3 linked regions of the Homo sapiens genome follow. The protein of the gene in region 2 purifies or fractionates together with the protein of the main gene of each other region. This does not show direct contact. Each region holds a gene or a part of one and is shown on either strand. Other genes may lie near its edges.

Evidence for each region.
Region 1: the proteins of TMEM150A (region 2) and ACOX3 purify together in Homo sapiens (affinity purification with mass spectrometry; 3 studies listed by BioGRID and IntAct, with this or other methods). This does not show direct contact.
Region 3: the proteins of TMEM150A (region 2) and HELLS purify together in Homo sapiens (affinity purification with mass spectrometry; 2 studies listed by BioGRID and IntAct, with this or other methods). This does not show direct contact.

What each region holds. Positions count from the first base shown.
Region 1 is NC_000004.12:8,433,976-8,437,723, reverse strand, and holds part of ACOX3 (peroxisomal acyl-coenzyme A oxidase 3), read left to right. Parts: intron 1-1,756; exon of another isoform or gene 1,757-1,801; intron 1,802-3,748. UniProt on the Homo sapiens protein: Oxidizes the CoA-esters of 2-methyl-branched fatty acids.
Region 2 is NC_000002.12:85,600,661-85,604,408, reverse strand, and holds the start of TMEM150A (transmembrane protein 150A isoform 1 precursor), read left to right. Parts: upstream 1-1,710; 5' UTR 1,711-1,802; intron 1,803-2,014; exon of another isoform or gene 2,015-2,344; 5' UTR 2,345-2,460; coding exon 2,461-2,525; intron 2,526-2,639; exon of another isoform or gene 2,640-2,851; intron 2,852-2,926; coding exon 2,927-2,974; exon of another isoform or gene 2,975-3,301; coding exon 3,302-3,388; intron 3,389-3,617; exon of another isoform or gene 3,618-3,748. UniProt on the Homo sapiens protein: Regulates localization of phosphatidylinositol 4-kinase (PI4K) to the plasma membrane, possibly by reducing the association of TTC7 (TTC7A or TTC7B) with the PI4K complex. Acts as a regulator of phosphatidylinositol 4-phosphate (PtdIns(4)P) synthesis.
Region 3 is NC_000010.11:94,590,668-94,594,415, forward strand, and holds part of HELLS (lymphoid-specific helicase), read left to right. Parts: coding exon 1-109; intron 110-1,561; coding exon 1,562-1,645; intron 1,646-1,727; coding exon 1,728-1,847; intron 1,848-2,831; coding exon 2,832-2,948; intron 2,949-3,748. UniProt on the Homo sapiens protein: Plays an essential role in normal development and survival. Involved in regulation of the expansion or survival of lymphoid cells. Required for de novo or maintenance DNA methylation. May control silencing of the imprinted CDKN1C gene through DNA methylation.

The sequences.
Region 1 (3,748 bases), on a different chromosome or scaffold from region 2:
GTGTCCTTTCTTTTTTCATCTCACACATTAATGTCTCTCTAGCCTTGGCCGGCTCTCGAATCCTTGCCTAACTTGACTTCTTCCACGTCTACATCCGTGTCCACGTCCTCTCGCATTGCTAATCTCTCTTTTTATAAGAGCTGTTGCTAACAGATTGGCCTTTTTCCTTAAGTCTTTGTTTTTCTTTTTCCTTCCTGAGTTCTCCTGCTTCTATGGCCACCTGGCGGGGCCAGGCAGTGGCACAGGCCCTGCCCCCGCGCACTGCTGTCTCTCCCATTTTCTTCTGATTCTCTTTTTTACACTTACTGTGAGTCTTTCTTTTTGTTTTGCTCTTCTCTTGGCACCGGTCTCTAGCCTCCTCTTTTTTTCTAGATAGAGCTGAGCCGGGGAGAGGAATTTAACCCTTGGCGTGCCTAGCTGCCGCACTTGTTGCTTTTGCTCTTTCCTGTTTTGTTCCTTGGTCACAGCTAACATACGCCTTGGTGGCCACTTTTATAGACTGGGTGATATTCATGCCTGTAGCTTCTGCTTGATGTTACCCTGGGCTTGCTTTACAAACGAAGTATTCACTATATATATATTTATATATATATTTACATATATTTTTTTACATATATATGTAAATATATATATTTACGTGTATATATTTCTATATATTTACATATATTTGTATATATATATTTATATATATTTTTTCGAATATATATATATGCTGATTTTTTTTTTTTTTTTGAGATGGAGTCTCGCTCTGTTGCCAAGGCTGGAGTGCAGTGGTGTGATCTCGGCTCACTGCAAACTCCACCTCCCAGGTTCACACAATTCTCCTGCCTCAGCCTCCCGAGTAGCTGGGACTACAGCTACCCGCCACCACGCCCAGCTAATTTTTTTGTGTTTTTTTTTTTTTAGTAGAGACAGGGTTTCACCATGTTAGCCAGGATGGTCTCGATCTCCTGACCTCTTGATCTGCCCACCTCGGCCTTCCAAAGGGCTGGGATTATAGGCGTGAGCCACCAGCCTCAGGGTTAAATAGGATGTAAAGCCAGAATGCTTTACAGAGTCTCTTATAAAACTGACTTAGGCTCTTGTCAGCTCCTTGAAGCACTTCTGAAATCTTTTTTATATTAATTGCTTTTTTTCTACTACCTCTTAGCCTCTGCAGAAGTGCCTCTTAGTACTGCTGCAAATGCTGAAGCTGAGTTGCATTCTCTGGGTCTTTTTTCCCCTTTTTCCTAGATCTTAACAGGCCCTTTTTTAAATATAATTCTCCATGCAGTTGGAGGGTTAAACAGGCATACTGAGAGTCAGTGTAAATGTTTAGTCTTACCTTCACTGAGTTCTAAGGCCTGAATTAAAGCAATGAGCTCAGCTTAACGACAGTGTCCAGGGTTATCACTGCATATCCTGCACATCTCTCTCCTTGTGGGTTGATGAAGCTGCTCCCGTCCATGTATAGCTCCCAGTCTACTGATGCCCAAGGCTGGTCTCGGAGGTCAGGTCTGCTAGAGTAAACTTGAGTCCAACACCTCTACACAGTTAATGCTCGACAGGGCTCTAGCTGCTGGGAACAAGGTGGCGGGTTCAGGGTGTTTCCAGTTTAGTAGATCAATGGTTAAAAAGGGCTGATAGATGAAAGTCTGTTGCCCCACCCCCTGGATGTGGGCTTGGTCATTATAATAGACAGGTCCTCGTGTCTCCCTGAGAGGCATTTGCATAGCTCCAGCAAGACCAGATCTGAGAGGGCCCACTTGACTATCTTGACTTCCTTCCTTGGCCTCTTGAGGCTCCGATCTTCCCCTTCAAGGTGAGACCTGGGGCATGTTAGCTCCTTAATCTCGTTTCTCAGGGGGCTGTTGGCCTCGGTAAAGGGGGGTAGGCTGGGCCATATGGAGAAAGAATTTCTGTTATCTCTGGCGGCTCCTGCAAAACTGGCTTCTCTTGCTCTTTCTGGGACTCCCCTTTTCAACTCTGTGTCTGCTGGTGCAGCTGTTCTTACTTTCACTTTTGGCTTTTTTGCAATAAGCTGTTAAACAGGGCTAAATTTATGCTGGTTTTTGTCTATATTATATTTAACCATGAATCAATATAAAGGAATTGATCTAGGTCCACTGGCTGTCCTCCAACCCCTGTCACCACCTTAAATACATGGCCAATTGTTCCCTGTCTGTAGTTCCTTCGGTGGGCCATCCAACACCAAAAGAGGGCAATTCTTTTTTTTTTTTCTTTTTTTTGAGACGGAGTCTCGCTCTGTTGCCCAGGCTGGAGTGCAGTGGCACAATCTCCACTCACTGCAAGCTCCGCCTGCCAGGTTCATGCAATTCTCCTGCCTCAGCCTCTTGAGTAGCTGGGACTACAGGTGCCCGCCAGCACGCCTGGCTAATTTTTTGTTTTTGTATTTTTAGTAGAGATGGGGTTTCACCCTATTAGTCAGGATGGTCTCAATCTCCTGACCTCGTGATCTGCCCGCCTCGGCCTCCCAAAGTGCTGGGATTATAGGCGTGAGCCACCGCGCCCAGCAAAAGAGGGCAATTCTAATTCACATAGAGTTCTTAACCTCTGGGGGCTTAACCTCTGTAATCCCCTGCAAAACCTTTCTTAAGGTTCTGTAACATGCATTTTAATAGAGTAAGTTTTGATGATTAGATGACTTTCCTTTTATTTTTCTTCTTGAAATTTTTTTTTAACACAGTTTCTAGCGGAGTGGGCTTACTTTGTGTTTGACCTATTTTTCTCTTGAGACAAAACAACATTCACACTACAAGAAGGAAAGGGTAAAAGGTTACTCACTCGTCTAATTCACACTAAAGGAAAATCAAAACTAAAACCAAAGTGTCATTAAAGGCACACCTGTTTGTCAAGGAATTTAAGCCAAGTCAAAATCAGAACCAAAGCCAAAGTGCCAATAAAGGCACGCCTGTTTATCAAGTAATTCAAGTCAAGTCAAAAACAAAAACCAAAGTATCAAGCATTTCAAGTCAAGTCAAAAACAAAAACCAAAGTGCCGGTACAGGCACGCCATGGGTGATCAGGCCACGCTTCCACTCAAATGGAGTGTGCAAGTTCCAAAGACCAGTCTTACCAAGTTTCAAATGTCCAGACTTAAAGTGCTAGTTCCTTCCCAGTGTTCAGCCACTGCGTTGATCCTCCACGGGGGCTTGCCATGCACCACTCTGACGAGGCATTCCACGGGGGCAAATGCCTACCCGGGAGCACTCTCAGGATCTGCATCGCGCAAGCTGGCTGGAGCCCCCCACAGGGATGCTCTACAGGGCAGGCATAAGCTGCCTAAGGGGCTGGCTTGAACGTCCCTTAATCACCTCGCTTCTCAGTCAGGGAACCAAGAAATGTAGCAGGACGAGCTGCAGACAAAACTCCTCAGACACCGGATTAAAGAAGAAAGAGGTTTATTCGGCCGGAAGCACTGGCAGACTTGTGGCTTAAGAGCGGAGCCCCCCGAAAAAGAAATTCTTGGCCTGTTTAAAGGCTTACAACTTTAAGGGGTCCATGTGAAAGGGTCGTGATAAATCGAGCAAGTGTGGGAAACGTGACTGGGGGCTACATGGATCAGCTAACAGAACAGAAAGTTTTGCAATGCTTTTTCATACAATGTCTGGAATTTAAAGATAACACAAGTAGTTTAGGTCAGGGGTTGATGTTATTATTATTATTATTATTATTTTAACTCCTAGGGCCACGTGGTGGTGCCAAGGTTGTCTGGCTATTTATCTTACTTTTGTTTCTTTCTAACTTT
Region 2 (3,748 bases):
GAAACCCCGTCTCTACTAAAAATATAAAAAAATTAGCTGGGCATGGTGGCAGGCACCTGTAATCCCAGCTACTCGGGAGGCTGAGGCACAAGAATCACTTGAACACAGGAGGCAGAGGTAACAGTGAGCCGAGATTGCACCATTGCATTCCAGCCTGGGCAACAAGTGAAACTCTGTCTCAAAAGAAAAAGGGCTCTCCAACAGGTTTTCTGCTTCCATTTCTGCTTTCCACTGGGTCCAAGAAGGTTTCTCCCTCTTCAAGTCATTGTGCAGTTTATTCTGCTCTACTTCTCTAAAGCACAGGACCCTGTTGTTTCACATAGCCTTTGCCTCACCAGTGTTGCCAAACTTCAGCTCCCCACGCTGGGCAACCTGCGCCTGTGCACCATTCAGGTGATGATCTGTCATCTCACAAGGGCTCCAACAGATGCTGGGACCGCCTTTGAGACAGAATGCCAGGCACACTTCTGATATGTGAAAGTATTTCCACCCTTGCAATAATTTAAGAAACATCCGGGCCAGGCGCAGTGGCCCACGCCTGTAATCCCAGCACTTTGGGAGGCCGAGGCGGGCGGATCACGAGGTCAGGAGATCGAGACCATCCTGGCTAACATGGTGAAACCCCGTCTCTACTAAAAATACAAAAAAATTAGCCGGGTGAGGTGGCGGGCGCCTGTAGTTCCCAGCTACTCGGGAGGCTGAGGCAGGAGAATGGCGTGAACCCGTGAGGCGGAGCTTACAGTGAGCCGAGATCGCGCCACTGCACTCCAGCCTGGGCGACAGAGCGAGACTCCGTCTCAAAAAAAAAAAAAAGAAAAAGAAAAAGTAAAAAAAAAAGAAACATCCAGGAATGCACTCATAGCCTGTAAGTTTTTGGTGAAGCTGGTCAGTAATTTTTCCCACACTATCCTGTTTCCTTTTCCCAGATTCCTCCGGGTCTCTCACCTTCCCCTCTTTGCTTACCAACACTGGCCATGTTAATCCTTACCTACTCTACACTGACACCTACATGTGTCTATTTAGAATGGATGTCCTCTGGTCTCTGCCGTCTTATTTCAAATAAGTGTTGATCAGTCGGGAAACACGTCTTGGACACTGATTTCTGGCTAGTACATTGTGTACTTGTATGCAGGAAAGCAAAAAGTATCTAATGAAAGCAGCCCTCCTCCGGAGTTTGCTGAGCCACAGGAACCATAAGCCAAATCCCAGGCGCTTGGATTTCTTAAGAAACAGCCAAGTCTTTGTGTCTGCTTCTCTGGACCCACCGCAGCCCTGGCCAGAGGCAGGCATGGGGCGCCACGTTGAGAGAGCTTCCTAGAGGACTCACCGTTGGCCGGTGCAGGCTGCAAAATGTGCGCAGTGGCGGAGAGACGCTCCTCCAGCCATGTGCACGGCGACAATCCCAGGTAGAGCTGGAATGCAGGCTGCCCCGAGATCCCCACCTGCTGACGCTTCCCCGGCAGGAATCGGTTAAACGGAACCTCTAGTCATCTCGGTTTTAGAGCGGTCTTCACGCCACAGCCCTCCGCGCCCAGGTCCTCCGAAGTTGGGACACCGCCCACGTTTCCCCCGTGACGCGGGCGCGGGGGCTCGGGAGTTGTAGTCTCGGGCAGGGCGCGGGCACCGAGGCCGGGGCTGCGCGGACTCCACGTCCCGGCGGGCGGCGCGGCGAGGCCTGGGGCCTCCAGGGGCGGGGCCGCTCGGCCCTTTAAACCTTTCAGGGCTGCTCCGAGGGCCGCAGCTAGAGTCGGCGCCACGAGGGGGCCGAGCAGGGTGCGGCGGCGGCGGGGCGCTCCGGGGAGGTGCGTACTGGGCTCCTTCCCTTCCTCCGGGCTTCCAGGAATCACCTGGGGACTCTCGCGTCCCGGGTCCTGGGGGGTCGCCGGCCGCAGGGTCCGGCCCCAGCCGGGGTCCCCGCGCCCAGGCGAGCGGGGGCCGGGCCGGGCTGGGCTTTCCGCGTGAACCCGCCCCTCGCCCAGGGCGCCGATGGTCAGGTGGTTGCCTGCGCGCCGCCGACTCGCCACCGCTCCACTGGGCCGGCACCCAGCCTCTCCTTGGCGTGGCCTCTTCGGTTGTCCAGCCCTTCTCCCAGCCCTGGTCCCTCAGAAGGAGGGTAACTCCCTTCCAGATGTTACGGTCCGCCTGCGTCTCTCAGCACGCCGGTGGCATTTGGGTTGACCGCGGAGGCCCCCAGTGCCAGAGGGTGTTCACGTTCTGCCGTGGGCTCAGCCCAAACTTTGGACGCTCAGAGACCCAACGGGAGCGCTGGATAAGGTGTTGACCCCCTTCCCCTCCCCCTTCCCGGCCAGTTACCCACTCCTGGACTTTGATCTCTCTCCACCAGGCCAGGACAGCTGATGGTTGTGGCAGAAACATCTCAAGGTAGCTGGTCCGCCCCCACTTCCCCATCTACCTCTTGTCCTCCCCCCAACACCACCACCACCCTGGCTCCCCTCCCTCATGACCGCCTGGATCCTCCTGCCTGTCAGCCTGTCAGCGTTCTCCATCACTGGCATATGGACTGTGTGAGTAAAGGGGGGTGCCCGGGGGGCAACAGGAGCTTGATGACGCACACAAAGTCTCTTGTCCTGTCATAGCCACGGTGGTACCCAGGGTCACTCTGGGTGTCTCAAAAGCCTGACTTGGTGCCTGGGCACACAGCCCCTTGGGACAAGCTGGCACCACTGCTGTCCAGCAGGGTGGCCCTGACAAATATACTTCTAGCCAGGGCAATTTCCAGAGGGCCTGTAGCTGGGGGCATGCTGCAGGTGCTGGTGTGGCATCAAGCCTTAGGGACCTCAACTTGAGTCCCCAGCAACAATAATGAGGCTGAATGGGGCCAGAAATCAAGGTTGAAGAGAAGGGTCATGGGGTGGGTTGAGTGGGGCTCGGGAAGGCTGCCAGGGTGACAGTTCTGTTCCCACAGGTATGCCATGGCTGTGATGAACCACCATGTATGCCCTGTGGAGAACTGGTATGAAGGACTCTGCAGACAACCTTGCTCTAAAGCTTCCTTCATCTCTGTCCCCTCTTGGGCCTGAGGCTGCCACGAGCCAGACTGCAACCCTGAGCCTCACTGCTCTTCTCTGAAATTGGTCCCCAGGCATGGCTTCTTGCCACCTACCCACTTCCCACTATCCCTTTGCCCCTTTGGTTACTGCTTCAGGCGGGCACTGGGGAGTGGGATCTTCTGTCCCTGTAGGGGAGGTCTGGGAGAGAGTCCTCTTTGAGGCCTGAGGCTATAGGCCAAGGGCCTGGGGGCAGTCCCTTCCCCCAGTCTACTCCCTGTCCTGCCTGCCAGGTCCTACAACGAGTCCTGCCCTCCTGACCCTGCTGAGCAAGGGGGTCCCAAGACCTGCTGCACCCTGGACGATGTCCCCCTCATCAGGTAAGGCCTGGACATTGGGCCGGTCAGGGAGATCTAAGGGCCTCCCAGACAGCCCCTCAAGCAAAGAGCTGTCCTTGGGTCTCAGGAACAATAAGTATCCTAAGAGCCACTTAATAACAACACTACTTGACAGTTACTGTGGGGCAGGCACTCTGCTGAGTGCTTTATATGCATTGTCTCTTTTCATCCTCCCAGGAGTGAGGCAGGTATTGTTTTCACCATTTTATAGGTGAGGAAACAGGCTCAGTCTTCCTCATCCAGGTCACACAGCTAATAAGCGGAGGCACCTGGATTTAAGCTGGAGCCCTCAGATTGCCCAGCCCGTGTTCTGGCTCAAGGATAGCCAAACCAGCCGCAGGG
Region 3 (3,748 bases), on a different chromosome or scaffold from region 2:
ATCTGAAGTTAATCTGAAGCTGCAGAATATAATGATGCTACTTCGTAAATGTTGTAATCATCCATATTTGATTGAATATCCTATAGACCCTGTTACACAAGAATTTAAGGTGAATACTGTTTAATTCTAATTTACTGTTTTGATTTCCATTACTTTTATATTGGTGGAAAGTGTTACTTTTTTTGATTATAATTATTAAAAATAAGTATGGTGCTATTTGTCATGAAGATTGTAATCCTTCAGTAAGCTGAGACAGTCTTCTTTCCGAAATTTCAGAGAACCTTATCAGGGTTAGAAAAATGGTCACTTTCTATGAGCAACTAGTTTTTTAAATTTTTTTATTTTTTATAGAGACAGGGTCTTGCTATGTTTCTCAGGCTGGTCTCAAACTTCCTGGTTTCTCAGGCAATCCTGCCTCAGCTTCCCAGAGTGCTAGGATTACAGGCAAGAGCCACCACGCTTGGCCTCTATGCAACTTATATTTTTATTTACATATTTTATGTGAACAACTAAGAATTCTAAATTTAGTAATTGATTTGTACTCTGCATGTTTACTTGTTATATTTTAGAGAGAGTGGTCATCTTTTCACTATTTCTTTTATCATTAATATTTGGCTTATCAAAATCAGCCTGGTTGCTCATTGCTTAAAGATCAACAGGTAGCCATAGAATAAAACCAGTTTTGATTTGGAGGTTTTCAAATTAAGTAAATGAAGTTGCTTTCTTGGGTAGTTGATAGAATGATAGCATAATATCAATAGAAATAAATTCTTAGTAACCCTCAATCACAGTTGTTTCAAGGTAGTTTACAATAGGCTTTTCCACTCCTGGCAATATTGACATTTTGGGCCAGATAATTCTTTCTTAGGAGGTAATGTTCTGTGCACTTAGGACATTTAGCAGCATCCCTGTCTTCTACCCATTAGATGCCACTAGTATTCACTTCCCTCAGTTATGACAACTAAAAAGTTTGCTGCCGCTGCCAAATATACCCTGGGGATAGGTGGAGGGCAAAATTGTCCCCATTTGAGAGGCACTGCTTTACATCTTTATTAGAGTAAGAAGGAAGACAAAACTTTCCCACTCAAATGAAAGTAGCTCTCTCATGAGGGAATTTCACCAGAAGGTGAAAAAGTCTTTGTCCACAATATTTAGATTACTTATCAGCTCCTGTATTTTCTCTTAATTTCTGGTAAGAATTCTAGCAGTAGTTTACATATACATTTAGTTGGAAATAACTCACTTATAAAGAATAAGCCTGAGTATGTACCCATTAAGTTTGACATAATTGTTTTCTTTCACAATGACTTTGAGAGAGGAGTGTTGAGGTTAGATCAAAGTTATATTTGTACTTTGTTTTTGTGAAATTGCTGGTTTTACATTCTAGAGTATGTCTTTGAGTAATAACTATCTTCTGATTTTACAAAGATTGAATAACAGGTCAGTTTTTAAGTTTTTTAAGTGACTTGGCTTTGAAAATTGAACTTTCCAAATGGCTTTTGTTTTAACAAAGCAAATAACAGTTTTCTCTCTATTTTTTCTTCCTTTGCCCCTCCTTAAGATCGATGAAGAATTGGTAACAAATTCTGGGAAGTTCTTGATTTTGGATCGAATGCTGCCAGAACTAAAAAAAAGAGGTCACAAGGTGGTACTTTTGATTGGAATTTTGGATTGTTCAATTATTTTTTTATCAATCATTAGAAATATTAAGATATGTTTAATTTCAGGTGCTGCTTTTTTCACAAATGACAAGCATGTTGGACATTTTGATGGATTACTGCCATCTCAGAGATTTCAACTTCAGCAGGCTTGATGGGTCCATGTCTTACTCAGAGAGAGAAAAAAACGTAAGACTACTTATGTCATACATACCAAACTATTCTTTTATAATTCCTATCTTGATTTCTGAAGTAATATTCCAAATAGACCCACAAATTGATAAAAAGATAGAAATGACCAGAAACCCTGTGGTTTTATCAAAAACAAACATTTTGATTTAGTACTAAGAAGTCTTAATTTTTGATTCACAAATATATATATCTTCTGGCACAATCTTATTAATAATATCCTACTTAACCATCACTGTAAGAATATTGGGATAGCAGGAAATTTTTTGCCTTTTTGCCCTGTCCTCAACTTTCTATTATGAAAATATCAACTATATGGCAAAGTTGAAAAAAAAAAAGCAACTGTAAATCCGCCTACAATCTGCTGTTAACATTTGACTATACCTTTTTAAAAACACATTTCCTGTAATAGCAGCCTTGCTGTATCCATTCAGCATTTAATCCTGGTTTTTTGGTGCATTTAAAAATAAAATATAGATGATACTACCCTTTTCCGTAATGACTTCAGCATATTTTATCTTTTGGGGTAAAATTTACACATACTGAAGCAAATAATGTATACATTTGCTGAATCTTTCTGACAAATGCATATGTAAATTTATACCTAACCCCTATTAAGATATAGAATGTTACCATCAGCCCAGAAAGTTTCCTGTGCCCCCTTCTAGTCAATTCTCCCCTGCACCCACCCCATGTGTTTAGACAACTACAATTTTTTCATCATTTTTTGATATTAGCTTTTCTTATTTAAACATTGTTGTGATACATGGTTTTTAACAAAATTAAGATCTCTTTAATATAGGTGCTTGGACGATAAAGCTAACAGCACAGGTTTTGTTAACATAATTGTTTTATAGATCTGAATGATTTGTTTGGCCTCCTTTGTTTAAGTCTTTAATAGTTGTAATTGAAAACATTTTTCTCCTTCAGTCTTGTTGGTTAATTTATTTTAATCTGTTGTATTTACATCCTTTTTGCTTTTAGATGCACAGCTTCAACACGGATCCAGAGGTGTTTATCTTCTTAGTGAGTACACGAGCTGGTGGCCTGGGCATTAATCTGACTGCAGCAGATACAGTTATCATTTATGATAGTGATTGGGTAAGTTGGAAGTATAGCAAGGAATATGCTGATTATATTTCCATTTTGAATTTTTTTTTTTTTTTGAAATGGAGTCTCACTCTGTTGCCCAGGCTGGAGTGCAGTGGCACGATCTCGGCTCACTGCAACCTTCACCTCCTGGGTTCAAGTGATTCTCTTGCCTCAGCCCCCTGAGTAGCTGTGACTATAGGTGTACACCACAATGCCTGGCTAATTTTTGTGTTTTTAGTAGAGACGGGGTTTTGCCATGTTGGCCAGGCTCTCTTGAATCCTGACCTCAGGTGATCCGCCCACCTCGGCCTCCCAAAGTGCTGGCATTACAGGCTTGAGCCACCACACCCAGCCTCCATTCTGAATTTTTTTTTTTTTTTTTTTTTGAGAAGGAGTTTTGCTCTTGTTGCCCAGGCTGGGATTAAGTGCTGGGATTACCAGCATGAGCCACCGCGCCCGGCCATTCTGAATTTTTAATTTTTAATGGTACATGTTACAAATTTACTTATCTATTTTGAAAAGATACCCATTTTCAGCTAAGAGTTATTTCTTCATAAAGTTTTTTGCAAGTAAAAATTGAAAATTTTTTTTTACTTTTGTTTTTAGTGACAGGGTCTCACTATCACCCAGGCTTGAGTGCAGTGGCACCATCACGGCTCAGTAGCCTTGACCTTTTGGATTCAAGTGATCCTCCCACCTCATTCTCTCAAGTAGCTGGGTCTATGGGTGTGCTACCATGCCCACAAAAAATGTAAAAATTAGTGAGACCACGTCTCACTGTTTGCCCACGCTGGTCTTGTATCCTCATA